Homo sapiens: one gene and its partners. The protein of the gene in region 4 interacts with the protein of the main gene of each other region in a pairwise test. Each region holds a gene or a part of one and is shown on either strand. Other genes may lie near its edges.

What was found.
Region 1: the proteins of TRNAU1AP (region 4) and SECISBP2 interact in a two-hybrid assay, tested with the Homo sapiens proteins (one large-scale study listed by BioGRID).
Region 2: the proteins of TRNAU1AP (region 4) and QKI interact in a two-hybrid assay, tested with the Homo sapiens proteins (one large-scale study listed by BioGRID).
Region 3: the proteins of TRNAU1AP (region 4) and GTSE1 interact in a two-hybrid assay, tested with the Homo sapiens proteins (one large-scale study listed by BioGRID).
Region 5: the proteins of TRNAU1AP (region 4) and PRRC2B interact in a two-hybrid assay, tested with the Homo sapiens proteins (one large-scale study listed by BioGRID).

Annotation. Positions count from the first base shown.
Region 1 is NC_000009.12:89,327,385-89,333,177, reverse strand, and holds part of SECISBP2 (selenocysteine insertion sequence-binding protein 2), read right to left. Parts: intron 4,519-5,793; coding exon 4,292-4,518; intron 271-4,291; coding exon 192-270; intron 1-191. UniProt on the Homo sapiens protein: mRNA-binding protein that binds to the SECIS (selenocysteine insertion sequence) element present in the 3'-UTR of mRNAs encoding selenoproteins and facilitates the incorporation of the rare amino acid selenocysteine.
Region 2 is NC_000006.12:163,557,718-163,563,510, reverse strand, and holds part of QKI (KH domain-containing RNA-binding protein QKI), read right to left. Parts: intron 1,530-5,793; coding exon 1,442-1,529; intron 92-1,441; coding exon 1-91. UniProt on the Homo sapiens protein: RNA reader protein, which recognizes and binds specific RNAs, thereby regulating RNA metabolic processes, such as pre-mRNA splicing, circular RNA (circRNA) formation, mRNA export, mRNA stability and/or translation.
Region 3 is NC_000022.11:46,326,769-46,332,502, reverse strand, and holds the end of GTSE1 (G2 and S phase-expressed protein 1), read right to left. Parts: intron 3,816-5,734; coding exon 3,614-3,815; intron 3,146-3,613; coding exon 2,936-3,145; intron 2,457-2,935; coding exon 2,373-2,456; 3' UTR 1,693-2,372; downstream 1-1,692. UniProt on the Homo sapiens protein: May be involved in p53-induced cell cycle arrest in G2/M phase by interfering with microtubule rearrangements that are required to enter mitosis. Overexpression delays G2/M phase progression.
Region 4 is NC_000001.11:28,568,611-28,574,403, reverse strand, and holds part of TRNAU1AP (tRNA selenocysteine 1-associated protein 1), read right to left. Parts: intron 3,229-5,793; coding exon 3,066-3,228; intron 2,538-3,065; coding exon 2,504-2,537; intron 1-2,503. UniProt on the Homo sapiens protein: Involved in the early steps of selenocysteine biosynthesis and tRNA(Sec) charging to the later steps resulting in the cotranslational incorporation of selenocysteine into selenoproteins. Stabilizes the SECISBP2, EEFSEC and tRNA(Sec) complex.
Region 5 is NC_000009.12:131,484,529-131,490,321, reverse strand, and holds part of PRRC2B (protein PRRC2B), read right to left. Parts: intron 5,637-5,793; coding exon 5,532-5,636; intron 5,375-5,531; coding exon 5,182-5,374; intron 4,658-5,181; exon of another isoform or gene 4,572-4,657; intron 4,238-4,571; coding exon 4,140-4,237; intron 3,156-4,139; coding exon 3,028-3,155; intron 2,467-3,027; coding exon 2,226-2,466; intron 1-2,225.

The DNA of each region.
Region 1 (5,793 bases), on a different chromosome or scaffold from region 4:
ATACTCTTTGTGTGTGGATGTGGGATCTCATCTACTTAACTTTCTAAACTAACACTGATGTTAGGTTACCCACAATTCATTAGCTGTCTTAAGTCTTTACAACAAAAATCATTTCAACTGCACTGGAGTTAAAAATGAACTTAAAAAATCTATGACATTTTAAAAATTAACATTTTTGCAGCCACTTTTACCTCTTGTACATGAAGGAGAATTGGTAGCGGCATTAGCAGTTACAGATTCATTTGGGTTATTTTTCACCACTATTTCACCCTAAAAAGCAAACACATTAGATGTCATCAGAGAAATGCAAATTAAAACAAGGAGATAACACTACATATCAAAATCCAGAACACTTTGACAACAGAAATCCTTATCCATTGCTGGTAAGAATGAAAAACGTTACAGCCACTTTGGGAGATATTTAATAGTTTAGCAATTCCTTACAAAACTAACCATACTCTTACCATATGATTTAGCCACTGCACTCCTTGGTAATTATCCAAAGGAGGTGAAAACTTATGTCCACACAAAAACCTGCACATGGATGTTTATAGCAGCTTTACTCATAACTGCCACAACTTGGAAGCAGCCAAGATGTGGGCTACATACTATATGATTCCAACTATATGACATTCTAGAAAAGACAAAACTGTGGAGACAATAAAAAGATAGTAGTTAGCAGGGGCTGAGGGGAGGAAGGGATAAACAGGTGAAGCACAGAAGATTTTTAGGGCAGTGAAACCACTCTGTACCATACTACTATGGTAGACACACATCATTATGCATTTCCCCAAACTCTTAGAAGACACAACACCAACAGTGAACCCTAATGCAAACGATGCGCTTTGGGTGATGATGACATGTCAATGCAGGTCATCAATTGTAACAAATGCATTACTCTAGCACAAGATGTTGATAATGAAGGAGGCTGTGTGTGTGTGTGTGTGTGCAGGCAAGGGGCATATGGGAAATCTGTACTTTCCTCTCAACTTTGCTGTGAACCTAAAACTGCTCTCGAACATAAAATCTATTTTTTTAAAAAAGCCTAAGCAGTTACTTTCCATTTCAAAGTAATCATTTAATTTTAAAATATAGCTTCCCTTGCCATTCTTAAAATCTGCAAAATATATGCTAATTAAAATTTCCAAATATATAAGTACATAAAGTGAAAAGTTAAATTACTTCCTTCAACCAAATCTCACTCCCTAGAGGAAAACACCACCCACATCTATAGCTTCATTAGTATCCTTCTACTTCTTTGCCTATGATATAAACATTTGTGTATCATATTTTTATACGGATTCCCATAATGGAATCACACCACACATAGTATTGTGGCAACTTTTAAAAAAACTTTAACATACTACTGACAAGCTTTACAAGTTGGCACAGATGCACCACACAATTCTTAAAGCTGCAATGATCCCATGTAAATGCAAAAGCCATCATTCACTAGGCACACACCAAAGTTCAACAGTCCATCAAAATGTCTACAAAGACAACAAATGTAAGCCTGCAATGTATGCCCTGTGTTATGAAGACAGAAGGCTGTCTCACATATTAAACATAAGACATATAATGACGCTATGTGTATGGGGGGGTCGAGTATATTAAAAGGCTCCTCCAAGTGACTAACACCAGAGGTAAAAGTAAATTAAAAGATTCAAAGTTGAATCCATTAAGTAGATAATGGATTTAAAATAATTTTTAAAATTCATATGCTTCACAAATTTATCCATTTGTCAATTCATAACATGAGTCCAGGAATAAAAAATAATATTAAAACACAGCCTGTTCTTTTAGTAAACATAACTTTTATGCTCACCAAGGCCAATAAAAAATTAGAAATAGCTTACCTGTTCAAGAATGGTTAAATAAATTATACCTATCAGTATGAGAGATCCAATGCAAGTTGCTTTCAAAAAATACTTAATGACATGGAAAAAATACGAACAAAGTTTTAAACAATTCAAACGTAAGACTGTACGTATTTATAATCTCAAGGTGAAGGAAATTCCCACAATAGACTATTTTTAAAAGATTATGTGTTAAGCATGCTTTTCTTTTGGTTGTACAATTTCAGACAAATATATATATTTTTTGTCATTTTCAGACATTACTAATATCATCAGGAAAAAGTTTCTTTTAGAAGGAAAATAACTTTTTAAAAAGCCCACACATAATTCAAGAGTGTATGTGACTCTCTTAATAGAGCAATCAGTATGTATATCTTCTATCTTACTTCATATGTTCAAACACATTAACAGTCACATGTAACAAGTGACCTTGATATAAAGCCCCAGTCACACTCCTGCTCACTCCACGAGCTGACCCTGAGGCTTACACAGCATCCTGGACTACTTCTGCAGGGCACTCATGAGAGCGGTACGTGATGAAGACCGGCAGCGCCGTGGCTATTCAGCCACCGCACAAACCCAGCCTGGAGCCCCTGGAGCAGGCCAGATGGAACTATGATTTTTAGATAGCCATCAGTTGGCCTGACTTCTCCCAGCTCTTTGACAGGAAAGCACCATGCTACAACAGTGTGAGGGTACAACTGTATGAGGGTCCTGCATGCAAACTGCTACACAATGGCCTATCTTCTGCACATTACCAGCAACTGTCACTGAGCCTTCAGGCCTTAGTGTCCAGGCACCTAACAGAAGTCCAAGGGCAGGAAACAAATCCTTTCTAAATTCAAGAGGTAAAGCGAATGGGTGAGGCCTGTTTTCTTTATCTTTCTTCTTTCTACTTGCCTTCGTACTGGCATGTACTCCACTGCTCCTTCAGCGGAAATTCATCAGAAGCCATTTTAGGAACTACTAACCAGACACTATTTCTTCCTGGAAGTCTCAAATCAATCCATTTGAGAGAAATGCCTCAACTTGGTGGACTAAAACTCTGAGATCAAATGTTGAACAAAGTGAATTAACCTGCTGTAATAAGTTTTCCTGAATTTGCTGCATCATTAACAAGACAAAGATGTAATAAAAGCCTGGAAAATTCAAAAGTTACACTATGCAGTTTTAAATATTACTACAGTTAAGTCCTCAGTACCATGGACAGGTTCTTGGAAACTGTGACTTTAAACAAAACAACATAAAACAAAACCAATTCCTTTTTTCATCAACATCATAATGAAATGATGGTGAAGAAAATGTTACTGGAGGACCTACTATACAGCCTTTCATTTAAAGTTGCAGTTTCCAAGAACCTATTGACAACATTATGTGAGGACTTAATGTATTTCAATTTTTATAAAAGTCTTTTTTTTCTATATTGGAAAAAGTGCTATCAGCATGTTAGAAGTAGCGTGTTGAAAATGGGCTGTCAAAGCGGCTTGACTCTGTTACAACCTTTTCCTTCTGAGGCACCACAATACCTTTCAGCTACCATATAAAAAGGAGTATACTAGATTGGGCACGGTGGCTCAAGCCTGTAATCCCAGCACTTTGGGAGGCCAAGGCAGGTGGATCACCTGAAGTCAGGAGTTGGAGACCAGCCAGACCAATATGGTGAAACCCCATCTCTACTAAAAATACAAAAAAATTAGCCAGATATGGTGGCATGTACCTGTAGTCCCAGCTACTCCGGAGGCTGAGGCAGGAGAACTGCTTGAACCCGGAAGGCGGGGATTGTAGTGAGCCAAGAAGCCAAGATCGTGCCACTGCACTTCAGCCTGGGCAACACAGTGAGACTCCCTCCCCACAAAAAAAAAGGTATACTAGGTGATTCTTTTAAAACAATAGCTACAGCCGGGCACAGTGGCGTGGGTGGCTCACGCCTGTAATCCTAGCACTTTGGGAGGCCCAGGCAGGCGGATTGCCTTAGCTCAGGAATTCAAGACCAGCCTGGGCAACATGGTGAAATCCCGTCTCTACTAAAATACAAAAAAAAAATTAGCCAGCGTGGCAGTGTGCGCCCGTAGTCCCAGCTACTCGAGAGGCTGAGGCAGGAGAATTGCTTGAACCCGGGAGGCGGAGGTTGCAGTGAGCTGAGATCGTGCCACTGCACTGCAGCCTGGTGACAGAGCGAGACTCCGTTTCAAAAACAAAACAAAACAAAACAAAACGCACAAATAAAACAATAGCTGCACTAGATGTTACAGCCTCATTATAAACTGTTCAAACAAAGAAGGTCATATAAGTGCACAATGAAAGGCTTCCCCCAATACATCCTCCCCAGCTCCATGGACATCAAAGCCCACAGCAAGATTTAATGTGTAATGTTTGAAATGAGACAATTTAAAGTGTACAAAGGAAAAAGAAAAAGAGAGAAACCCTCACCTCACCTTTGATAACACTGCAGCTGGTTTTACTACTTCTCTTAGAAGAGAAATGTCGGTAGAGACAGAGTGGACAGGTCCCCACTTGGGTTGCTTCTGTATCTCTGACATATTGTTCTCTGCACCTTGCAGTTCAGGAAAGTCCAGTGTGGTAAATTCAAACTCAGGTTTGGAGGTAGATACATTTTTTGCAATGATTCTGGATTTCCTGTCTGTTCGCTTATGGTAACCATCTGTAATTACAAAATTAAAAGTAAGAGTAAAAATTTAGTTACTGTTTGATGACCAGTATGCAAGCAAAAATTGCAGAGTACAAAGACTATTGCTATTGATGCAACAGGTTGTTGTCAAAACACCGTAACTCTTACCGGTGTTGTTCACCTTCCTTTGTAAAAGTATAAAGTTTAAATGACCATAAGTATCAATCACTCTGGTTGGACCATCATGCAGAAAAACCAAAATGCACTGTACATTTAGGAGTATGTATAGTCACGCGCCACATATGATGGTCTGATCAGCAATGGATTACGTATACAACAGCCCCATAAGATTGTAATGAAGCTGAAAAATTCCTATTGTCTACTGGTAATGTCATGGTGCGATTACTCACGTTTGTGGTGATGCCAGTGTAAACAAACCTACTGAGCTAACAGGCATATAAAAGTATAGTACATGCGATGATGTACTGTACATAATACTCGGTAATGACAATAAACAACTATGTCACTTGTTTATGTATTATACTTTTTATCTTTGGAGTATATACTCCCACTACTTACAAAAGAAAAATTTGGCCAGGGCAAGGTGGCTCACGCCTTAATCCCAGCACTTCGGGAGGCTGAGGCAGGCAGATGCAGCCACGAGTTCCAGACCAGCCTGGCCAACATGGTAAAACCCCAACTCTATTGAAAATACAAAAATTAGCTGGGTGTGGGGGCGCATGCCCCCTAGCTACTTGGGAGGCTGAGGCACAAGAATTGCTTGAACTTGGGAGGCAGAGGTTGCAGTGAGCCAAAATAGTGCCACTGCACTCCAGCCTGTGTAACACAGTGAGACTCTGTCTCAAAAAAAAAAAAAAAACACAAAACGACAAAAGAAAAACTTAAGTATAAAGCAGCTTCAGGCAGGTCCCTCAGGAGGGATTCCAGAATAAGGCATTGTTATCACAGGAGATGACAGCTCCACGCATGTTACTGTCCCTGAAGACCTTCCAGTGGGACAATATGTGGAGGTGGAAGACAGTGATACAGATGATTCTGACCCTGTACAGGCCTAGGCTAATGTGTGTGGTTGTGTCTTCGTTTTTAATTAAAAAGTGTAGAAAGTTAAAAAAAAATTAATAGAAAAAAGCTTATAGAGTAAGGATGTAAAGAAAGAAAATATTTTTGTCCAAGCCAAGTATTTTTGGTTTTTCTGCATGTTTGTGTTTTATTACAAAAGGTAAGTGTTATTACAAGAGTCAGAAAGTTAGAAAAATTAAAAATGTATAAAGTAAAAAAGTTACAGTA
Region 2 (5,793 bases), on a different chromosome or scaffold from region 4:
CGCAGGGCAGCTGGTGGGAGAACCGGCGCAGGCCCAGTAATGATCCTTGGAGCAGCCTGGGCTGTTGCTGCAAGAGAAAAGGCAAGGGCTGCTACAGTAAGCAAAGAAATTTAGAAAGAAGTATAGAGACAGCAGTATAAAATACGGAAAAATGAGAAGGGAGTAGGAAAAAGAAAGGAAAAGCAGGAAAGAAGAAAAATAAAAGGAAATCATTAGTACATGCGCTGATCACACAAAAATGCAAAAGCACACCAATCAAATGCAAACAGCTTTCCCTTTCCCAATGTGATTAAGAATGTGCAAAAATTAAAAAGCCATTGTAAAAAAATGAATGACACCATTAAATAGGTTATATTTAGTTCATACATTTGATATATCTAAGATTTCATAAGACTAAAGTACATGCAGAAGCACAATGAAACACTTGCATTAACAGATGTTAAAAAATAATTTGTAACCGGAGTCCACAGAAACTCAGTTTTGGTATATTTCTAAAGTACAGCTTTAGTTTCAAAGTAAAGAAAGAATAATTTTTATTGCATTTAGTCAAGTAACCACTAGGTATATATGTACATTTCCTGCATCTTTAGGAACCAACGTCACAGAAAATCTTAAAAAGCCCTACTTCTAAATTCCTATTAATGATATACTCACATTTTCATGAGTAAATTAATGTCAACAATTTGTAAAGTAACTACTTCTAAACCCACTAGAGGTTGCCTACATCTTCTAAATCTGGCTAGAACTTAAAAATTCTATGTGTTTTAAATAATCAGTAATTTAAACATGGTATGTTCATATAAATGACATGTATGAATCTTAAATTGTTTCAAAATATAAATTTCACATTATTTCATTTTAAACATAAAAAAGCTATCCTCTTACGGCTTATAAAAACATGCATAGATACGCATAAAAACAAAAATAGGACGGAAAAAGAGTTATCACCCACTGATCTCTGTGAACTCACATATGAAATCAACAGGGAAAAATACTAGAGGGAAAACATGCAAGCAAAGTGAAAGGACAGAACTCAACAGAGGGTCATTTCAGTCAGATACACTTCAAATTCACTTTTTCAAAATAAGCTTTCAATATGTTGTCTTTTGCATAAATTTAACAAGATAAGCTGCAAGCCCTACATCTGTAGTTAACCAAACAGAAAATTTCTTAAACACTTGAATTTAGAGATTGTGATTTTGTTAAAATAATGTAAGTTTATCAACCTAAAACTTCAACATGCTGACATAAAATAAAATCAAGAGTGTCCTCAATTCATGAAAGCATTAAAAATAGGACTGTCAGCCCCATATCAAGTGACAGAACAGTTATTTCAACTGTTCACTTTGTATGAACTATTATTGTGTTGCCAAAAGGAAAAAAGTCTGTAGACAAAACAACGCAGACAGCAGTAACCCTGGGCCTCAGAGCTCATTCTTACGTGATTTAATGTTGGCATCTCTGTAGGTGCCATTCAGAATCGCAAGCTCCATCAGCTGCATCTTCTTCAGGCTGTCTTCTCCTTCTGCCTATACATGGAAAACACATGAGATGAAAGCATTTGAGACTGTCCACAAATATAATAGCTATATCTACACACAAGCCTTAAAGTAAGTATCATGTGACTACAGTCACCTGTTTTAATAAGGGGAAAAAAAGATCAAGAACCAAAAGGTGCTAACATAATGGAGCCTGCTTTCTCTGTTTTCTCAGTAAAGGCATGTTGATATACAGCATATTGTATTTGTAAATTTTTTGTCAGTTACACCGATTTATTAAAGTTCCCCTAAAAAGCTTTACTTTTAAATAGAAATGAATGAAAATGTGAGATAAGACTAAACATAACATATTCTCTTCAGCATCTATCATTTTAAAATTACTTTAATTAATTTTATTGTTTTTAGATACAGGGTCTTGCTCTGTTACCCAGGCTGGAGTGCTGTGGCATGATCCTAGCTCACAGCCACCTTGAATTCCTAGGTTCGAGCCATCCTCCTACCTCAGCCTCCGAAGTAGCTGCGACTAGAGGCACGCGCCACCATGCCTGGCTAATTTTTTTTATTTTTTGTAGAGACAAGGTCTCGTTTTGTAGCCCAGGCTGGTCTCAAACTCCTGGCTTCAAGTGATCCTCCTGCTTCAGCCTCCCAAAGTGCTAAGTTTACAAGTGTGAGCCACTGCACCCAGCCAGCAACTATCATTTTGCTGAATATTCCAAAACTCAAATGTGTTCGTTAAACACACACATACACACACGCGCGTGCACATGTGCACACAAATAATTTTAAACATACAAGATTTGATTACAGAATTTAGGTAAGGAAATTTTATGCTTAATTCTTCAAAATATGAAAACTCAGTGAAATAATAACTTCTAAAAAACCGTATATTCTGCTCTCTTACACCACCATCCCTGTCTCCTTTCAATCTAATTAGCAAGTGCTATCAATGCTACAGCAATCTATCTTTAGGGTCACCATATGATTTATTGTCCAAAGCAGAAAACTTTTAAAAGCAAAAATGGGCACTAATAATAACCATGCTTCAAACCTAAATCAGGATAGTCTCTAATCATCAAAATGTTTGGCCACCCCATTTACCTTGAATTGGTCCCACTCTTTCCATTTACTGTTCCAGTTGTTTTTGGCATAGCACCCAAACTACTAAAACATGTTGCTAATGGTGTCTGTTCTCCAATCAATCTCTACACAAAGGCCAGATTAATTGCCCAAATCACAATTTTCATCATGTTTCTCAACATTCTGTCTCAAAACACTTTCATGGTTTCTTACTATCTAAAAATATAAAAAACTTTAGTTGCCTATAATCTGGTCCCAAAATATCCTCTCAAGTTAAGCCCATTAACCTACTACTTTACACACGTATGTAAGTAACATCTTAAGTCAAACCAGATTGCTCTCCACCATTCATCTCTGTGCATATTCCCACTTCCTCCATCCTAAGTGCTCCCCTGCGCACTCTCTGCCCCTCTCTCTTTCCAAATCCTACCTATCCCCATCCCCACAAACTTCAACCTAAATGCTACCTTCCTTCTCCAGGGGCCATCCCTAGATTACAGTAGATCCTCACTTAATGTGGTCAATACATTCTTTAAAACTAACTTTAAGTGAAACGACAGACAGCAGGTCCTCAAATAATGCCACTGCTTTCAACATGGTTTCATTATAACATTGATGAAAAAAGAGGCTGCAATATACTCATTTTGTTTAAAGTTGTATCTCCAAGAACCTATCGACAAAGTTAATTGCTTCTACTTCAAATTACAGTCTGTTGAGTATCACCACTCCCAAAGTAAGCTCCATGAGAATAGGGCTTATTTCTTTGTTACCACTGCCTAACCCCATGTTCCCACGGCCACCCCCAAGTTACTTACTAGAACTTATAAGTGACTGGTATGAGAAGTCTTTAACTTTATTTCCAAATCCCAAATGTCTCAGTCCAACATAAACTTTAGCCACAGTCAAAGCAAGCAGTAGATGAGGGTCCATCTATCAAAGTCTGTGTAGAGATAGAACTAACTGCCCCCCACTTTTATGTATCATCGAATCCCAGTAACTTTACATGACTTTGTGATATTTACAATGAAAGTAACACAATGCAACAATTTTCTGACATAGTCTTGTTCCTCTCTGATTCATAAAACGGGAAGGACGACCAGGACACAGGCTTCTCAGTGCTCCTTTCTATTATAGCTGTAATGACACACAAAATTCTGTTTTTGGCATTACAATGGTGAATGGTATACTATAATATATAGTAAACAGAACTGTTCAGTGAGCTTTTAGTAAATCACAAGAATTAAAGAAAAATATGAGTGAAACATAAAGACAATGTTTTGATGTGCTACTGCCAACTTTTTAAAAACCTACTTTGCAGAAGATTACAGGGAGTGGATACTGGCATGCCTGTAGAATTTGACTCCTATCAACTTGTACAAAGATGAACAAAAAGTAAGTATGATCTTAGAAAGACACAGAAATTATTTGTTAAAAACGAAATAAGTAAGCTACTATTGGAAAAGAAGAATCAAATCCATTATAATAAAACTTCAACTTATTTGCTAAAAACTAGTCATTTGAAAATTAAAACTTATCAAAAGTTTCAAATTTAAATTTATATATAAAAATGGAATACCAAAAGTATTATAAATTATACTCTACATAAAAAAAGAAAAAGAAGAGCAGTAGGTTTACCTCCAGTCATCTACCATAGCGAGAAAGAAGTGGTACAAGTTTGAAAATGTCAGCAAATAAGAGGGCAAATTTACTTCCAACAAAGAGGAAATAAAGACGAAAGACGAGTTTCCTGCAGAAGGGCAGGTGCTTGAAAACATGTTGGCACTGAACTGCTCCTTTTGGATAGCAAAATAGCTATTCATTATTTGGCAATGGAGTGTCAAACAAGGGAGAAAACCACAGAGAAAAAAGATGGAAGAAATGTGTGTGATTACCACTGTGTGTGCACACTTGTGTAATGTGCAGGGTGCAGGATAATGAAAACAGGAGAGATCACCCTAAGAGAATAAAAATAAGAGTGGCATAGGAGGAGATCCTGGTGTAGTCTGCCATATGGTGTTGCTGGAGGTGATGGTATGTTACACCAGATCACAGCCACATTTTGGCAGGGTACACTAATGCCTCCCAGAAATGCACAGGATTTAGTTGGCAGAGCTGGAATTTGATTCTAGGTGGTCTCAGTCCAGGATGGGCTTCACCCTCATGTCCTGACCACTCCCCTCCACTCTGTATTCACAGGGCATGATCTTGTGTGTCTTAAGAGACAACAGGGTTCACTGGCCGGGTGTGGTGGCTCACGCCTGTAATCCCAACACTTTGGGAGGCTGAGGTGGGCAGATCATGAAGATTAGGAGTTCGAGACCAGCCTGGCCAACATGGTGAAACTCTGTCTCTACTAAAAATACAAAAATTAGCTGGGCGTGGTGGCAGGTGCCTGTAATCCCAGCTACTTAGGAGGCTGAGGAAAGAGAATCGCTTGAACTTGGAAGGCGGAGGTTGCAGTGAGTCGACATCGCGCCGTTGCACTCCAGCCTAGGCAACAGGGCGAGACTGTCTCAAAAAAAAAAAAAAAGAAAAAGAAAAAAAAAGAAGAGACAACAGGGTTAATTATAGAATTACTTTCACATCGAAGTGGTTATTTCAATGTTACTGTCCTGGTTTTGACAATGAGATTTGGTAGTACGTACCTGCCTAAACACTGTTGAAGGTATATATCACCTCTTTTTCAAATATAAGTTCAGATGAGAAAACTAAGTTTCTTCTACAGTCTAGAGGCTCTAGAGCTTCTATGAGCCAGTCTTCAGACCAGTTTTTCTGACCTCTTTTTTTCTCAAAAATTACAACTGATCAAACAGGGCATCCTGAAGTTGTACATGTCAACTCCAGATAGTTCACAAAGTATCCTGCAGAACCTTGATCGGGAATGAGCAACTCTACAGAGACAGAACACTAACTTTTACATTTGTAAAATGGGTCATTAAAATCATATTTTGTAATACTGAACTCAAGTGATTATCCGCAATCTCATAGCTTCTGGTTTCCTAAGTATTTGCCCTATATTCAAGAATCATTTAAAAAATGGAAGCAAAATTCACATGCAGTGGACTCCCAAGATCTTAAGTGCAATATCCAGTCACGATATTTCTTTTTTTTTTTTTAAGTTTTTGTGGGCACACAGTAGGTGTATGTATATATAAAGTACATGTGATATTTTGATACAGGCATATAATGCATATTAATCACATCAGGGTAAATGGAG
Region 3 (5,734 bases), on a different chromosome or scaffold from region 4:
GGCTGGCCCTCCTGGGGCCACGGAGCCCTTCAGTCTCCAACTAACTGTGCATCTTCCCACCCGGAGCCCTCTGAGGGGTGAACCAAGGGCCTGTGTACCAGGAGAGGGAGTGGGGGAGCTCAGACTGGGTGGCTTCGGCAGGAAGAGCCCAGTGGAGAAACCCAGACAGAAAGGAATGGGCCTGGAGCCTCAGGACAGGAGCAGCTCTGCTCTGTCCAGCTCCTGCTCCTGGGCCCTCTTCCTGTCTGTCTGTAGAGAGTTAAAGTCAGATCACTCTGTCTGGCCTGGGTACCAAGGAGAGCCTGGCTGCACTGAAGCCGCACCGGGGAGGGGAAGGGCACAGGGGGGAGGAGCCCCAGCAGCGGGATTGGGGCCACAGGCCAAAGGCTGGGCTCACCCCCAGGGCCTGAATGGAGACAACTGAGGCACAGCTTGGTTACAGATGAGCTGGGAGCTGAACATCTCCCTCCTCTACCCAGTGGGAAGCCCTAAGAGGGAAGGGGTACCTGAGCGCTGCACCCCGCTGCACCCAGCAGAAAACAGCCTGACCCATAGCAGAGCCTCAGTAAATATTTGCTGCATGGTTTAATCCAATTTCAGATTTCCTTTTCTACCCCTGGGAAATGAGGGCCAGACCAGAGGTTCCCTGAGGACCCTCCGGTGTCACTACCAGGCCCCTGGGATTCCCTGCTGTCCCGGAGACGTGGAGCCGCCGTGATTCCCACGGGCCCGGCGACTCTGGCCAGCGCAGGACTGGCTGAAAGTCTTACCTGGGGAGTCACTGCTCATGGAGCGGGGCTTCTCTGGCTTCATGACTCACACATCCAAGCAGCTCTGCCTGTGGGGAGCTTCCGTCTGCAGGCGCAGCAACTCAGCCGTGAGAAGCGCGCCACCTTTCCACCATGGCAGTTTCCACCGAGACGTCTTTCCACGGCATCGCCTGTCCACCCTACCCCTCCCTGCTCTCGACGGCAGAGGACTCGCTGTTCCGAGTGGCAGCTTTAGAATCACGCAGTAACCGCAGGAAGTAGAGAGCACAGCACAGTCATCATTTTCCCTCATCTTTGTGGACAGAGGCAGATCCTGGTATGACCCAGGGAGCACTGGAGTGGGGTCCGAAATACAGAGTCCGGCCGCTGGCTCGCTGCTGTCTGCCATGAAGCCGCTCAACCAAGGTGGTAAGTTTCCTCAAGAGAAATGGACACAAAGTAGCGGCTTCCTGGAGCTCGTTTTCTAAATAAAGGGAATGGGCTTTCCAGTGGCACTCAGTTCCTGCCACTGCCCACTGAGCTTGTCGGGCCCCTGCTGAGAGCAAAGCTGAGGGGTCCTCCCCGAGGCCTGCCCAGCAGACGCCGTCCATCACCTTAGTGTCCAGGTAAGCCCGGCCTCCTCGCCCATCCTCTTTCCACTCATACCCTCGTCTCCCCAGAGCAGCTTCTTCTCAAGGGGTGTGTCTCAGGCCATCGAGTCAGCATCACCTGTGTGCCTAGTAACAATTACTAGGCTGGCCCCAGACCTAGAAACTAGTGTATCTGGGGGCGGGCCTGGGCCTGCACTGACATCAATTTTTATTGACTAATTTTTGAAAATCACTTGTATGAAAGCATTCGAGTCTAGATAGTAGCCTTACTGATTAGAGTGATAAAAATAGCTATGCATGTTTGAAAATCAAGATAAGCTTAAAAATCAAGATATGCTTCAATAAGTCCATTTATTTTACAATTTAATGTAAATCTAGAATATCTAACTATTTATACAAACTTAACTTTAAAAATAGCCACTTGCTATTTTACATACAAAACATTCAAAAGAAAATTCTTCATTTAGAGTGACTGAGGCTTCACATTCCAGCCCAGAGAATGGCAGCGAGGAGGGTGGCGGCGGGAAGCAGAGGCCTTGGGTGGTCCGTGCTGGCCCCAGTCCCTCAGCCCACCCTCTCCAGCACTGGGAATATATTTATGCTTATTTTTCTTTTTCAAATAAAACTTCTACTAAAACATGTTTCTTTTTTTTTTTTTCCAAGACAGGTTCTCACATTGGTGCCCAGGCTGGAGTGCAGTGGCACAATCACAGCCCACTGCAGCCTGCATCTCCTTGAGCTCAGGCCATCCTCCCACTTCAGCCTCCCAAGTAGCTGGGACTACAGGCATGCACTACCACACCCGGCTAATTTTTGTATTTTTTGTAGGGACAGGAGTTTCACTATATTTCCCAGGCTGGTCCCGAACTCCTGGGCTCAAGTAATCCGCCCACCTCAGCCTCCCAAGTTCTAGGGTTACAAGTGTAAGCCACTGCGACCAGCCTAAAGCTTGTTTCTGAGGGTTGAAAACCACTTTAGGGCTGTTCTTTCAAGGCAAAGGATTTGGTTCGGCTTAGAACTTGAGGAGTGGGGAATCCACGTTCTCCTTGTCAGCCTCAGGGCTCAGCTGGATCAGAGGGGAGCTCAGGTCTATGAGCTGGAAGAGAGCAGAGTGGAGGAGGTGAGCGTGGATCCGGCTAGGGCCTCCCTTCCCCTCCCTGCACAGAGGACTGGCTGCGTGGGTCATCACAGCCACTCGCTCATCCTGGCTCGGGTGCACTGAAAAGCACTCTGGGCCACCACGTCTAAGAAGCTGGAAGGAGACAGGACACACACGGAGAAGCCCAGGCCCCCACCATGCACATTCCTCTGTCCCACATCTGGCCCTGGGGTCTATGGGCAGGAGAGAGGCGGTCCCTGTCCAACAAGAGCTGGCAGGGTCCTGGCAGGGCACCTCAGAGGCAGCTGATCTTTGAGAAGCTCAGGCTGCCAAAGGTGCATCCTGCCCTGAGGTGTGTAGCTGAGAAGACTCAACAGCCACTCTCAAGGGTCCCACGATGGCCCTGGGAGGATGAACAATCCCAGAACTGAGGACACCCAGGGCTGAGTCAACATGAACCACCTGCCACTTCTCACCTGTCCCACCACCGGTGAAGGTTTGGCCACATTTTTATTCATGTCTGGAGTGTTTGTCATGAGGTCGATCAGAGGCCTGCTTTCAGATCCTACAGCCACGTGTGCTTCTGGGGTATCGCAGAAGTCGATGAGAGGAAGGTCAATGAGGGGCTGGCTTGCAGCATCTGGAGTGACCGCGAGTGGTTCCAGTTTGATATCTACAAGAAGAGCCTGGGTACAAAACCAAGGTTAAGAGCAGAGTCCAGCATCTTTCTGGCAACCATCTTGGGAGAATGTGAGCTTTGCTCATGTTCCAGGTGGGCTGGCGGTTTGGAAAGCCAAGGAATCAGGCGGGGCCTTGGTGGAAGGAGGCTCTGTATGGGGTGGGCCGTGCCTCTCTGACTGTTGCCCACCTCCCTGTCCATACCCGCTCACCAGCAGCCACCAGCTCCTGCCACCCTGCTTCCCGCTTCCTCAGCTTTGATCCCTGACCCTTGCCTTAGTCAAATGCAGGGCTTTCTCCCCTGGAGGCCTGGAAGTCCTGACTGCCTCCCTTTGGGTTGCTTGGCACGGAGGCACTGGCCCCAGGATGAAGCATGGCAGGGAACTCCGCCAGCCACAGCCCTGGGTTCCACGGGCTTCCCGAGCAGCCTCCAGGAATCTCAGCTAACAGAACCCAGCTGCGCCCGTTCTGCCCACCTCACTAGGGGCTGCATCTCCACCCGGCTTGGCTTCCTCCCGAGCTACTTCTGTGGCAGTACTTTTGGAGAAAGTAGAATCGCTTTCCTCTGGAGAAAAGTTAAGTGCCTGAGGCACACGGGAAGGAGGAGAACCCCTGTCAGGGGACACATCCACCAGCCTGGAATCTGTCTTTCTGTTGCTCTCCCTTGTTGGTTCAGTTCTGTGGGAAGGAAAAAAACTTATGAGAAAATGTCTCTAAAATGCTCGTTCACTTGGCTGATGTGGGAAGCAAGTCACTCTGGAGGAACAGTGTCCTGGGTGGAGTGCGTCCCGGCTCTAGGGCCTTCACCCTCCAGACCCCCAGTTTCCTGTGTATGGAAGGGGCTCAGTGATCTCTCCAGTTCCTCTCAGCTCACAAATCTTAGCTGTCCAGCATCACCAGGGGCTGATGTTAGCCCCTTCCTTTCTAGTTACTAAACACAAGGTAATGCGCACGCCCGTCACCTCCTGAAGGGAGCCCAGACCACACACAGGGACCCCTCCTTGAGCCACGGCCAGCTCCTCCTCGCATGCAGCTAGTGGGGGGCTTCTCCTAGGCCTAGGTGGGTATGCAGCTGGCTCCTTCTGCCCCAGATGCCCCCTCCCCTGCTGCCCAGTGCCCTGATCAGGGCTGAGGCCCCAGGTACAGGCTGCCCACACCAGCTTTCCAATGGCGTCTCCCACAGGACCCTGCACGGGCGCTGCTGGGCTTGCCTGCTGCCCACAGGTCCTCGAGTACCTGCCACGCAAAACTGAATTCCTTCCGGAAACCCAGCAAAGCCGCAGGTCCATCAACTAACACACAGTACCTTCTTTTTAATACTTCAGAGGTTTCATAAGAAAATTCCAAAAACAAGCAGAATTTTGTTTCTACATTTACACTTACAAACATACAAGATAGTTAAACACATATTCCTATTTATATATCAGATCTGGTGTTTTCAGTGAGGCCTTGTTTCTCATTTTCTCTTTGGCATTCCATGCCTTTCCCTCTCCCTCTGTAATGCACACACATGCCAGCATATTTTCTTCCAGAGTCTTCTGCATTATCATAGAACTACATAGATACACACAGTGTCAACACCTACTGTTGGTAGATGTACATACACAGAAACATATAAGATATATAAAAATGTGTAATTTGTGTATAAATACACGGATATTATATATGTTTTTTTGTTTTGTTTTTCGTTTTTTTGAGACAGGGTCTCTGTTGCACAGGCTGGAGTGCAGTGGTGCGATCTTGGCTCACCCCAACCTCTGCCTCCCAGAATCAAGTGATTCTCCTGCCTCAGCCGCCTGAGTAGCTGGGATTACAGGCGCATGCCACCATGATGCCCAGCTAATTTTTGTATTTTTAGTACAGACAGGGTCTCACCATGTTGGCCAGGTTGGTCTCGAACTCCTGACCTCGTGATCTGCCCACCTCGGGCTCCCAAAGTGCTGGGATTACAGGCGTGAGCCACCGCGCCCGGCTAAGATAGTTAACTTTACACACTAGCATGATCTGTTTCAAAGGTTATACACGACTGAGGTGTGACTTCATTGGAATCAGGTGCCTTTTTCAATCTTTAATCATTTCTGAGCTCCAGCTATGGCTTACTTCATGTGTTCTGGGTCAATTTAGATAAATTTTATTTTATTTATTTTATTTATTTTAATTTTTACAGACGGGGTCTCACTCTGTCCCCCAGGCTGGAGTGCAACGGGGCAATCTCAGCTCACTGCAGCCTCAACCTCCTGAGCTCAAGTGATCCTCCCACCTCAGCCCCCTAAATAGCTGGGACTACAGTGCACGCCACCACACCTAGCTTATTTTTGTATTTTTTGTAGAGATGGGGTTTTGCCATGTTACCCAGGTTGATCTCAAACTCCTGAGCTCAGGCAGTCTGCCTGCCTCGGCCTCCCAAAGTGCTGGGATTACAGGCGTGAGCCACCACACCTGGCCAATAACTTGCAAATTTTAGAAAACCATTAGGTTTTCAAATTGATTATCAGAGAATTACACGCAGTATTTCCTTGTAATACCTTTAATTTTCCTCTATGCTCATGTCTATTGCATTTTCTCTTTGCAATGAAAAAAAAAACAAACAAACTTTC
Region 4 (5,793 bases):
AAAATTATAAATACTTGGCCGGGCACAGTGGCTCATGCCTGTAATCAAAGCACTTTGGGAGGCTGAGGCGGGAGGATTACTTGAGGTAAGGAGTTCGAAACCAGCCTGGCCAACATGCTGAAACCCTGTCTCTACTAAAAATACAAAAATTAGCCGAGCGTGGTGGTGCATGCCTGTAATCCCAGCTACTCAGGAGGCTGAGGCAGGAGAATCACTTGAACCTGGGAGGCAGAGGTTGCAATGAGCTGAGATTGGAGACTGCACCACTGCACTCCAGCCTGGGTGACAGAGCAAGACTCCGTCTCCCAAAAAAAAAAAAAAAAAAAGAGATGGGGTCTCGTTATGTTGCCCAGGCTGGTCTCAAAGTTCTAGGCTCAAGCCATCCTCCAACCCACGTTGGCCTTCCAAAGACCTTACAGGCTTTAGCCACCGTGCCTAGACAGTAAATACTGTTGTTTTTTTTTTTGAGACGGAGTTTCACTCTCGTCACCCAGGATGGACTGCAATGGAGCATTCTTGGCTCACCGAAACCTCCATCTCCCGGGTTCAAGTGAGTCTCCTGCTTCAGCCTCCCAAGGAGCTGGAATTACAGGCATGGGCCACCATGCCTGGATAATTTTTTTTTTTTTTTGAGACAGAGTCTTGCACTGTTGCCCAGGCTGGAGTACAGTGGTATGATCTCGACTCACTGCAACTTCCGCCTCCCGGGTTCAAGTGATTCTCCTGCCTCAGCCTCCTGAGGAGGTGAGATTATAGGCGCGCAACACCACGCCTGGCTAATTTTTTTATTTTTAGTACCGGCAGAATTTCACCATGTTGGCCAGGCTGGTCTAGAACTTCCGACCTTAGGTGATCCTCCCGCCGTGGCTTCCCAAAGTGCTGGGAGTACAGGGGTGAGCCACCGCGCCTGGCAATTTTTTTATTTTTAGTAGAGACGGGGTTTCACCATGTTGGCCAAGATGGTCTCGATCTCTTAACCTCATGATTCACCCTCCTTGGCCTCCCAAAGGGCTGGGATTACAGGGGTGAGCCACCGTGCAAGGCTTAAATATTTTTAATTAAAAAATTAATAATGGGCTGGGCACGGTGGCTCACCCCTGTAATCCCAGCACTTTGGGAGGCGAGGCAGGCGGATCACGAGGTCGAGTTTGAGACTAGCCTGGCCAAGATGGTGAAACCCCGTCTCTACTAAGAATACAAAAATTAGCTGGGCGTGGTGGCATGTGCCTGAAATCCCAGCTCTTCGGGAGGCTGAGGCAGGAGAATCACTTGCACCCGGGAGGCGGGCTTGCAGTGAGATGAGATTGCGCCACTGCATTCCAGTCTGGGTGACACAGCAAGACTCTGCCTCAAAAAAAAAAAAAAAAGAAAAAGAAAAAATTAATAATGGCTATTACTATGTTGTAATAGGATATGGGGTGATTTTCAGTTTCATTATACTTTACTATATTTTCTTTTTCTTTTTTTTTGAGACGGAGTCTCGCTCTGTCTCCCAGGCTGGAGCCCATTGGTGCGATCTCGGCTCACTGCAAGCTCTGCCTCCCGGGTTCACGCCATTCTCCTGCCTCAGCCTCCCGAGTAGCTGGGACTACAGGCGCCCATCACCACACCCGGCTAATTTTTTCTATTTTTTAGTAGAGACGGGGTTTCACCGTGTTAGCCAGGATGGTCTCGATTTCCTGACCTCACAATCCACCTGCCTCGGCCTCCCAAAGTGCTGGGATTAGAGGCGTGAGCCACCATGCCTGGCCCATACTTTACTATATTTTCCAAATTTTCCATCCTAACGATGACTTAAAAATCAGGAAAATATGTCTTTTAAAATATATTGAAAAACAGAAAAAAAATAAAATAAATAAAAAATGAATTTTACAAACAGTCAAACAAATAAAAGGTAACAGTATTATCGGCCAGGCACAGTGGCTCATGCCTGTAATCCCAGCACTTTGGGAGGCTGAGGCGGGCGGATCACCTAAGGCTGAGAGTTTGAGACCGGCCAAGCCAACATGGAGAAACCCTGTCTCTACTAAAAATACAAAATAATTAGCTGGGCATGGTGGTGCATGCCCGTAATCCCAGCTACTCGGGAGGCTGAGGCAGGAGAATTGCTTGAACCTGGCAGGTGGAGGTTGCGGTGAACTGAGATCATGCCATTGCACTCCAGCCTGGCCAACAAGAGTGAAACTCCACCACACACACACACAAAAAAAGGGTAACAGTATTATCGTTAGAGGCCCACATACCAGGATAGAATGCCACATGTCAAGGGGGTGATGGGCTCTCCTGGAGCTGCCTGTCCCAGGCTCTCTGGGATCTACACTTACACCTCTGGGTAACACCCGACACATCTTACCATAATTACATATTTGTCTGGCTCTCTAACCAGAATGTAAGTTCTTCCAGAGCAGAATTTATCTTGTCTTCCCTCTAGCTGAGAGCACAGTGCCAGCCACAGCAGTCACCTGATAATGGCTGACAGAGTAAGGAACGTATGAACCCTTACCTTCCAATGCATCATCTCCAACTTCTTCATATGTCTGCCAAGAGACCAGAGATGTGGGTTAGGGGCATGGTGAAATCCTGGCCCAGGACCACAGTGGCTTATATTTTTTATTTTTTTTGAGGTGGAGTCTAGCTCTGTCACCCAGACTAGAGTGTAGTGGCGTGATCTCGGCTCACTGCAACACCCGCATCCCAGTTTCAAGAGATTCTCCTGCCTCAGTCTCCTGAGCAGCTGGGATTATAGGCGCCTGCCACTATGCCCAGCTAATTTTTTGTATTTTTAGTAGATACAGGGTTTCACCATGTTGGCCAGGCTGGTTTTGAACTCCTGACCTCAGGTGATCTACCTGCCTCGGCCTCTCAAAGTGCTAGGATTACAGGTGTGAGCCACTGGGCCCTACCCACAATGGCTTATTTTTAACAAGAGGAACTGGACTGCTTCAACTTTCCCTATTTTTTCTGAAGCCCAAGCCCCTGTCCTTACCAATCCCATCCTAGAGAATGACCTGTTTCTAGAGGAGAAACACAACCCAAGGGGACCAGTCTTGCCAAGTCATGGTTACCTGCATGGTGCTCTGGGTATAGCCATACTGGGGGTAACTGTAGCTGTAGCTGCCTGTGTTCTGGTCATAGCCCCACTGAGCATAGTAGTTCTGGTACTGCTGATAATACTGGTTGTAGCTATAACTGTACATCTGACTATATTCCACTGGCTTTACACGGCTCCTTAAATGAAGACAGAAACAAAAATAAGTGTAAGCAAACATTTCCGTAACACTGCCTATGTGGCCACAGACTATTTTAAGTGCTTTATACCGATTAACTTTTTTTTTTCTTGAGACAGAGTCTTGCTCTGTTGCCTAGGCTGGAGTACAGGGGCGCAATCTCGGCTCACTGCAACCTGCGCCTCCCGGGTTCAAGCGATTCTCCTGCCTCAGCCTCCTGAGTAGCTGGGACTACAGGTGTGTGCCACCACGCCTGGCTAATTTTTTGTATTTTCAGTAGAGACAGGGTTTCACCATGTTAGCCAGGCTGGTCTCGATCTCCTGACCTCGTGATCCGCCTGCCTCAGCCTCCCAAAGTGCTGGGAGCCCGGCCACCAATTAACTCTTTTAATCCTCAAAACAACCATATGCAATAAGTGTATCATTATTCCTATTTTACAGATAAGGAAACTGAGGAACAGAGAGGTTAAGTAATTTGTCCAAAGTCACACAGCTAATATGAGAGTATGGCTCCAGAGACCATGCTTTTAATACAGGAGATTTTAATGGATAGGTTTGTCTCTCTTAACAAACTATGTCAGGACTGGCAAAAGGATATCCTGTTTAAAAAAAAAAACAAAACAAAAAAGGGCTGGGTGCGGTGGCTCACACCTGTAATCCCAACACTTTGGGAGGCGAAGGCAGGTGGGTCACCTGAGGTCAGGAGTTCCAAGACTAGCCTGGACAACATGGTGAAACCCCATCTCTACTAAAAATACAAAAAATTAGCTGGGTGGGATGGCGCGCCCGCAATCCCAGCTGCTTGTGAAGCTGAGGCAGGAGAATCGCTTGAACCTGGGAGACAGAGGTTGCAATGGGCCTAGATTGTGCCACTGGACTCCAGTCTGGGCAATAAAAGTGAAACTCTGTTTCAAAAAAAAAAGAAAAGAGACAGACGTGGTAGCTCACGCCTATAATCCCAGCCACTTGGGAGGCTAAGGAAGGAGAATCGCTTGATCCTGGGAGGCCCAGCTAATTTTTGTACTTTTAGCAGAGATGAGGTTTCACCATGTTGGCCAGGGTGGTCTTGAACTCCTGGCTTCAAGTGATCCACCCAACTCAGCCTCCCAAAGTGTTGGGATTACAGGCGTGAGCCACAGCACCCCGCCTTTTGTTTTCGTTTTTTTTGTTGTTGTTTTGAGAGAGTCTTGCTCTGTCGCCCAGGCTGGAGTGCAGTGGCGCGATCTCGGCTCACTGCAACCTCCGCCTCCTGGGTTCATGCCATTCTCCTGCCTCAGTCTCCCGAGTAGCTGGGACTATAGGCGCCCACCAGCACGCCCGGCTAATTTTTTTTTTTTTTTTTTTTGGTATTTTTAGTAGAGACGGGGTTTCACCATGTTAGCCAGGATGGTCTCAATCTCCTGACCTTGTGATCTGCCCGCCTCGGCCTCCCAAAGTGCTGGGATTACAGGCGTGAGCCACTGCACCTGGCCTTTTTTTTTTTTTGAGATGGAGTCTCACACTGTCACCCAGGCTGGAGTGCAGTGGCACAATCTTGGCTCACTGCAAGCTCTGCCTCCTGGGTTCATGCCATTCTCCGGTCTCAGCCTCTCTGAGTAGCTGGGATTACAGGTGCCCGCCACCACACCTGGCTAATTTTTTGTATTTTTAGTAGAGACGGGGTTTCACCATGTTAGCAAGGATGGTCTCGATCTCCTGACCTTGTGATCCACCCACCTCGGCCTCCCAAAGTGCTGGGATTACAGGCATGAGCCACCACGCCCAGCCTATTTTGTTTTTTAAGAGACACGGTCTCACTCTGTTGCCTGGGCTAGAGTGCAGTGGAGTTATCATAGCTCATTGTAACCTTGAACTCCTAGGCTCAATCAATTCTCCCACTTCAGCCACCAGAGCAGCTGGGACTAGAGGAGTACACCAAGCCCAGCTAATTTAATGTTTTTATATAATAATTTATTTACAACAAATAACATTTTTGGGAGAAGTCACTAAGCCTGATCTTCAATGTATTAAACACAGTTAAACCATAAAGAACCCCTAAATCATTGCTTTCAAAAACATGGCTATTTGGCTGGGCGCAGTGGCTCACGCCTGTAATCCCAGCACTTTGAGAGGCCAAGGCAGGCAGATCACCTGAGGTCAGAAGTTCAAGACCAGCCTGATCAACATGTGAAACCCTGTCTCTACTAAAAATACAAAAATTAGCTGGGCTTGGTGGCACATGCCTGTAGTCCCAGCTACTCGGGAGGCTGAGGCAGGAGAATCGCTTGAACCTGGGAGGTGGAAGCTGAAGTGAGTCAAGATCACGCCACTGCATTCCAGCATGGGCAAAAGAGCAAGACACCATCTCAAAAAAAAAAAAAAAATAGTTCAACTACTCTTAGGGTAGAGTTTCTCAGCCCTGGATCTATTGACGTGGAGGGGTGGGTGGCTGTCCGATGAATTGCATGATGTTTAACAGTATCCTTGGCCGATACCCACTAGGTGCCATTAGTACATCCTTGGTTGTGATAACCAAAAATGTCTCCAGATGTTGTCAATGTCCTCTGGGAGGCAAAATCACTCCAGT
Region 5 (5,793 bases), on a different chromosome or scaffold from region 4:
TGCAGGGGTGTGGAGGGGATGAGACACAGCTGGATTCTGAATCCTTTTAAAGCCAGAGCTGACAGGCCTGCTGAAGGGTAAGGGGGTGAGGTGAGGGGGAGCAGGGAGCCAAGGAGGATGTGGACTGGACAAGCAGAAGGACCGGGAGGAAAATCGAGTTTTGAATATGATGAGTCTTGAGATGCCATAAGACACCATAGCAGACATGCTGGAAAGTCCATTGGATTTGAGATTCAATTCCAGGGACAGATCTGAGCTAAAGATGTCCATTTGGGAGTGAGGAGAAGATGAAGGAATTTAGAGCCATGACTCTTGAAACACACCCAAAGCAGGGCCCACGGGCATGCTGACCATTACAGACTGGGAAGGAGAGGGGACAGCAAAGGAGACTGAGGAGGAGGCCTGAGGCAGCAGGAAAGCCAGGAGCGACGGCCTGGAAACTGGGTGAAGAAAGTGGTTCGAGGGGTGTGGGGGGCGGGATTACGGGGTCAGCACTGCAGCTCGTCTGTGTACTGACGGGAAGGGATATCTGATGCATGAAAGAGAGGGAGATGTGCTGGGGCAGGGCCCCCCAGGGGCACAGGCAGCACCTAGGCAGGGATGTGGCCACAGGGGCTTGGAGACTGTCACTGCTCCTGTTTCCTGGGTGACACAGAAAGGGAGGTCATGGGTGGGAGGCAGCGAGGGGCAAGATGCAAGTCTGAAAAGCTGCTAGGAGGGTGGGGGTTGACTGGGAGCCACAGCTTGGATGAAATGCAAAGGCCATGTGGCTCGGCAGATCTGCTGATGGGGAGGAAGAAGCCAGGCCAAGGGGGAGGATGACAAAAACATGGGTGGCAGAGACTGGGTGTGGTGGCTAACACCTGTAATCCCAGCACTTTGGGAGGCCAAGGTGGGTGGCTCACTGAGGTCAGCAGTTCGAGATCAGCCTGACATGGTGAAACCCCCATCTCTACTAAAAATACAAAAATTAGCCGGTGGGTGGTGGGCGCCTGTAATCCCAGCTACTCGGGAGGCTGAGGCACGATAATTGCTTGAACCCAGGAGACAGAGAGGTTGCAGTGAGCCGAGATTGCGCCACTGCACTCCAGCCTGGGCAACAGAGCGAAACTCCATCTCAAAAAAAAAAAAAAAAAAGAATTTTGGAGTTGGGTCACTAGAGGGAGTGAATTGAAAAAGCCAGAGGTGACAACTGAGAGGGACACTGAGAGTTGAGATTATGCGAGAGCCACAGCTACTGGGAGCAGCCAAGCCTAGACAGGAGTGCACAGAGCAGGGGCCCATGTGAACAAGGGCACCAGTGGCGAGGAGGGCACAAACTGCATGGACAGGGTCCATGGCACAGAGACCCGGGGTCATCTCTGCAGACATCAAAACCACTAGGAACTGGAACAGGAGAGTGGAGACAGACTGCAAGCCAGACCAGACAAGGAGGGTGACCTTCAAAGGTGCCAAATACTGCCCACAGGTTGACGGAGAGGAAGATTTCTCAGCAGACACTGGATGTGGTGATGGCACCATAGCAGAGTGAAGGGCTTGTCAGGCACAGTCTATGGTGTGGGCTTCAAAGCTGGCGTTTCAGGGAGGAAGGAAGAAGAGGAGTCTAGAAGCATCAACAACTACACAAAGAGGACTCTTAACCCATTCCACACCCTACTGCACAAGGGCAGGGAGAAAGGAAGGAGCCCCCGTCTGGGGGCTGCAGGAGCAGGCAGTGCTTAGGGGACAGCCAGGTCTCAAGAATAAAGAGATGGATGAGGGGCCAGGGGTGGTGGCTCACGCCTGTCATCCCAGCCCTTTGGGAGGCCAAGGCGGGCAGATCACTTTGAGGTCAGGGGTTCGAGACCAGCCTGGCCAACATGGTGAAACCCCATCTCTACTAATACAAAAATTAGCCAGGCACAGTGGCACACACTTGTAGTCCCAGCTACTCAGGAGGCTGAGGCAGGAGCATCGCCTGAATGTGGGAGACAGAGGTTGTAGTGAGCCGAGATCATGCCACTGCACTCCAGCCTAGGCAACAGAGCGAGACTCTGTCCAAAAAAAAAAAAAGGTGATGGGGCTACTCAGAAGAGGCTGATTTCCTGCACGCTGAGGAATGGGCACGGTGGCTACCAACCAACAGCACGATAGGCCAGCACACACTGAGAGGCGGGTGAAAAGAAAAGGCAAGGTCGTGAAGGAAAGAAGCCTAGGGCTTTGGGTAGAGTGACTGAATTCCTGACCTGTGGGAGCTGGGAGTCCAACATCTGGGAGGCACCCAGGCCAGCAGCCTGGCTGAGCTGGCCCTCGTAGACCAGGGCTTGGTTCCCGCTCATGGGCTGGTAGGGTGAGCCAGACTGCGGCTTCACCATCTCCAAGGGCTGCATGCCTGGGAACGCCGAGTATGGAGGCTTCAAGGCTGTGCCCCCAGAGAGGATCATGGTGCTGGGCGGTGACAGGCTGGGGTGCATGTACACCTGAGATCTGCAAAAGCCAGACAGATGGTCGGGATCAGGTGGATGAGTCCAGCTGCGGATCTGGTCCCACCCTTCAGAGATCCCCGGAGAGCTTGCTAAACCACAGATCCCCGGCCCCACCCCCAGAGCGCGACTCAGAGGGTCCAGGATGGGGCCTGAGAACAAGCTCCTAGATGGCGCTGATGCTGCTGGATTAAACAAGTGAAGACATCCAGGCTGTACGAGGCACAGGACATCAGCCACAATGACTGGCAGCCACACTGACGGAGAAGCCCGCGGTGGGGAGGAGACAGGGAGTCAAGGGGAGAGGAGGAGGAAGGAGCAAGGAAAGGAGGCAAGATGACATGGAAAAGCAAAACACGGCCCACCACATATCAGCTCGCCCCAGGCCTCTCCTAGAGCACAGTTAACAACGGACTGAAGAGTGATTCAGAGCAAACTCCCACCCCTCCCCGCCCCACTGGCCCCAAAGCAGACAAGCACCAAACAGCTGCAGGACGAAGGCTGCACACAGGGCCAAGGCCCTGGCTGTGAGCTGCCAGCTCCGCAAGCTGGTACATGAGCTCACCTGAAGGGCTGCAAGGAGCTGAAGATCTCCTGGGACTGGGACACAGGAAGCCCACCCCTCAGTCCAAGCTGAGCTTGTGCCTGCAGAGATGTGTGAAGGGAGATCGGGATCTGCTGGGCAGCGGCGGCCTGTGAACGGGAAAACGGGGTCGGGGAGGTAACCGCAAGGCCCATCCAGGTGGTTCTTCCCCTCCCACCTCCCCTGCCCCTCTCCACATGGCTGCTGGAACACTGCCCAAAATTCAAATGCCAGCATGTCATTCCTGGGCTTCCCTTGCTATTGGGATAAAGCCTATAATGAAAAACTGGTAGCAACCCCAAACCACAGCATATCCCTACCCTGGAATTCTACACAGCAACAAAAATGGATCCTAGCACATACGTCAACAGAGGTGAGTTCCAAAAACATAACGCTGAATTTAACAATGCACAAAAAGAAAGATACATGCAGTCTGACCCAGTTATGCAAGAACCAAAATCTTGGTAACCAAACAATACAGCAGTTAAGAACATGTTTTTAAAAAGAGGTCAGCAGAGGCCACATCCTCCATCAGCAAGCCTGCACTTGGAGCAGATTCTGCCTGGAAGTCCACTGTCGTGGCTGTGGAGGCACATGGGTCTGAGGGGCGGCTAGACCATCCCAAAGGCCCAGCACCAGCATTAGAGGGGAGACTTCCAAAAATCACCCCTTGGCAGCACAGAAAGTATGCCAGTCCTGCATAAATAACCAACGCCTGCTCATTTCTAAGACTACCTCTTTCTAATGCATCCATGCCTGGGAGTTTAGGCCTTTCTTCTCTTCATCAGAAGGATACCTGATCACCAAAGAAAATTCCATTTTAGCTAATTCCCCGGCTAGGACACAGGAGGGAGAACTTTGAGAAAGGAAAACTAAGCAGAGTCTGGAGCAGCCAACTCCACTCCTCTTCCCTGTCTCGATTATTCGCTTAACAAATGCCTCCTGGCTGCCGTGGCGGGCCAGGTGCTGGTCACCACATGTGAGGGGGATGGAAAACCAGACAGACAATGAGAAATAGATGAGCAAGCCAATTCCGCCCTGCACTGGCTCCTCCCCACCACCCCCAGCCAGGCCACCTGGCTAGCTGCTGTCACCTGTTGGTAACTCTGCTGCTGAGGTATCGTTTGAGGAACCAGCCGGGGCTGACTTGCAAACACATGGCCATCCAGGTACAGGGGCGGGAGGTGGCTGCCTGGAAACAGAGCGGCAAAAGGGACGTAGAAGAGGATCAAGCCTCACTACTTCTCAATGTCCCTGAGGGAAACAGTCTACAGGTCTGCTCTACCCAGGGGACTCAGTGGGGACGAGGGCGTGTGTACAGAGGCTGCTAGGTTCCCTGTGTGCCGGAAGCACACGCCTGCTCACAACACGCCTGGCACGCACCTCAGGGAACGTAGGGAGGGTGCAGCGTCAGACCTAGGAGGAGGGAGGAGGCAGGTGGGCTCTGGCCTACCCTTCCCACCTCCCACTCACCAACTACCCCAGACACTCGAAGGGGCATTCTACTTTAACCAGGGCTGCCTTGGTCTCTCAGTCACTGTCCTCTTCATCTCCCTGCTATTGAGTCCACAGTGGAGGGTCAGAAGGATCTATTGGAATTACATCACTGAGACTGGCAGCTGGGCCCTCAAAACCCCCACGCTTCCCCTTGGGGACACTGGCACACGATAAGGATGGCAGCAATCAGGACAAAAGTAGCTGCCAGTGACTGAGGGCTCTGTTGATACAAAGCCCTTTCCAGGTAAGACCTGGCCTCACGGGTGTGGCCACCCCACGGAGTTTCATGTAAGAGAGGAGAGGACACTGTGGCTCGGCAAGAGCTGCTCACCAGCCGAGGCGACACGGCTCCAGCACATGACCCAGGTCTGACTCAAAGTCAAGCCTTTGCTCGCTCCTGTCACCAGTAGGCAGGAGTGCCTCGCTGTTATCCCCCAGTTCTGTTTCCCAGCGTGGGGAAGCAGGACGTGCACATTACCTGCAGCACATGGGAGCTACGACCACTGGGCCTAAAAACAAGTTGCTACTTCTACATGCTACTTAAGACAAGGCCAGGAGGTGACATTCGGGGCTGTTAATCCGTTTTTCTTGATAATAAATGGAGAAGGACCCCAAGGCCTTGCTCAGGGGATGAGATACCTGGCATAGAAGCAGAAGGTGCTACAGAGGCCACAGGCATGGGTGGCATGGACACTCCACCGAAGGAGCTGTAGTTGACCCCGCTGGAGGCACCCACAGAGGATGGAGGCTGGATGCCTGAGCCAGCGCCGCCTGGAGAGCTCTGCTCCGGCAAACTGGGGGAGTTTTCCCAAGCCTTGCGCGCAGACTCCATCTTCAGAAGCAAGGGGAGGGGGAGGGATGAAAATTACTATCACGCTGGCAGTGGACAGAGCCAATCTAAGCTTTAGGGGTTCGGGGACTCCTCCCTTCTGCCTCTTTGTAAGCTAAGGTACTGGGTGGGCCCTCACCCAGCTCAGGGCTGGTGTTACCTTCAGAGTAAGGTCGGCGGTGGGGAAGGACATTGGGGAGAGACCGATGGCCCTCTGGATGTGATGGTCCCGCCGCAGGATGGGGATACTCTGTGTTAACCCTGCCTGGAGAGGAGGAAAAGGAAACCATGGAACACAAACAGGTGCAGAGATGGCTTTGCCCAAACCCATCCATGGCTCTCCTGAACACACTCAAGGCTCGTCCAAATGTATCTATGACTTGCCCAAACCCATCCATGGCTTTTCCCAAAAGCACCTACAG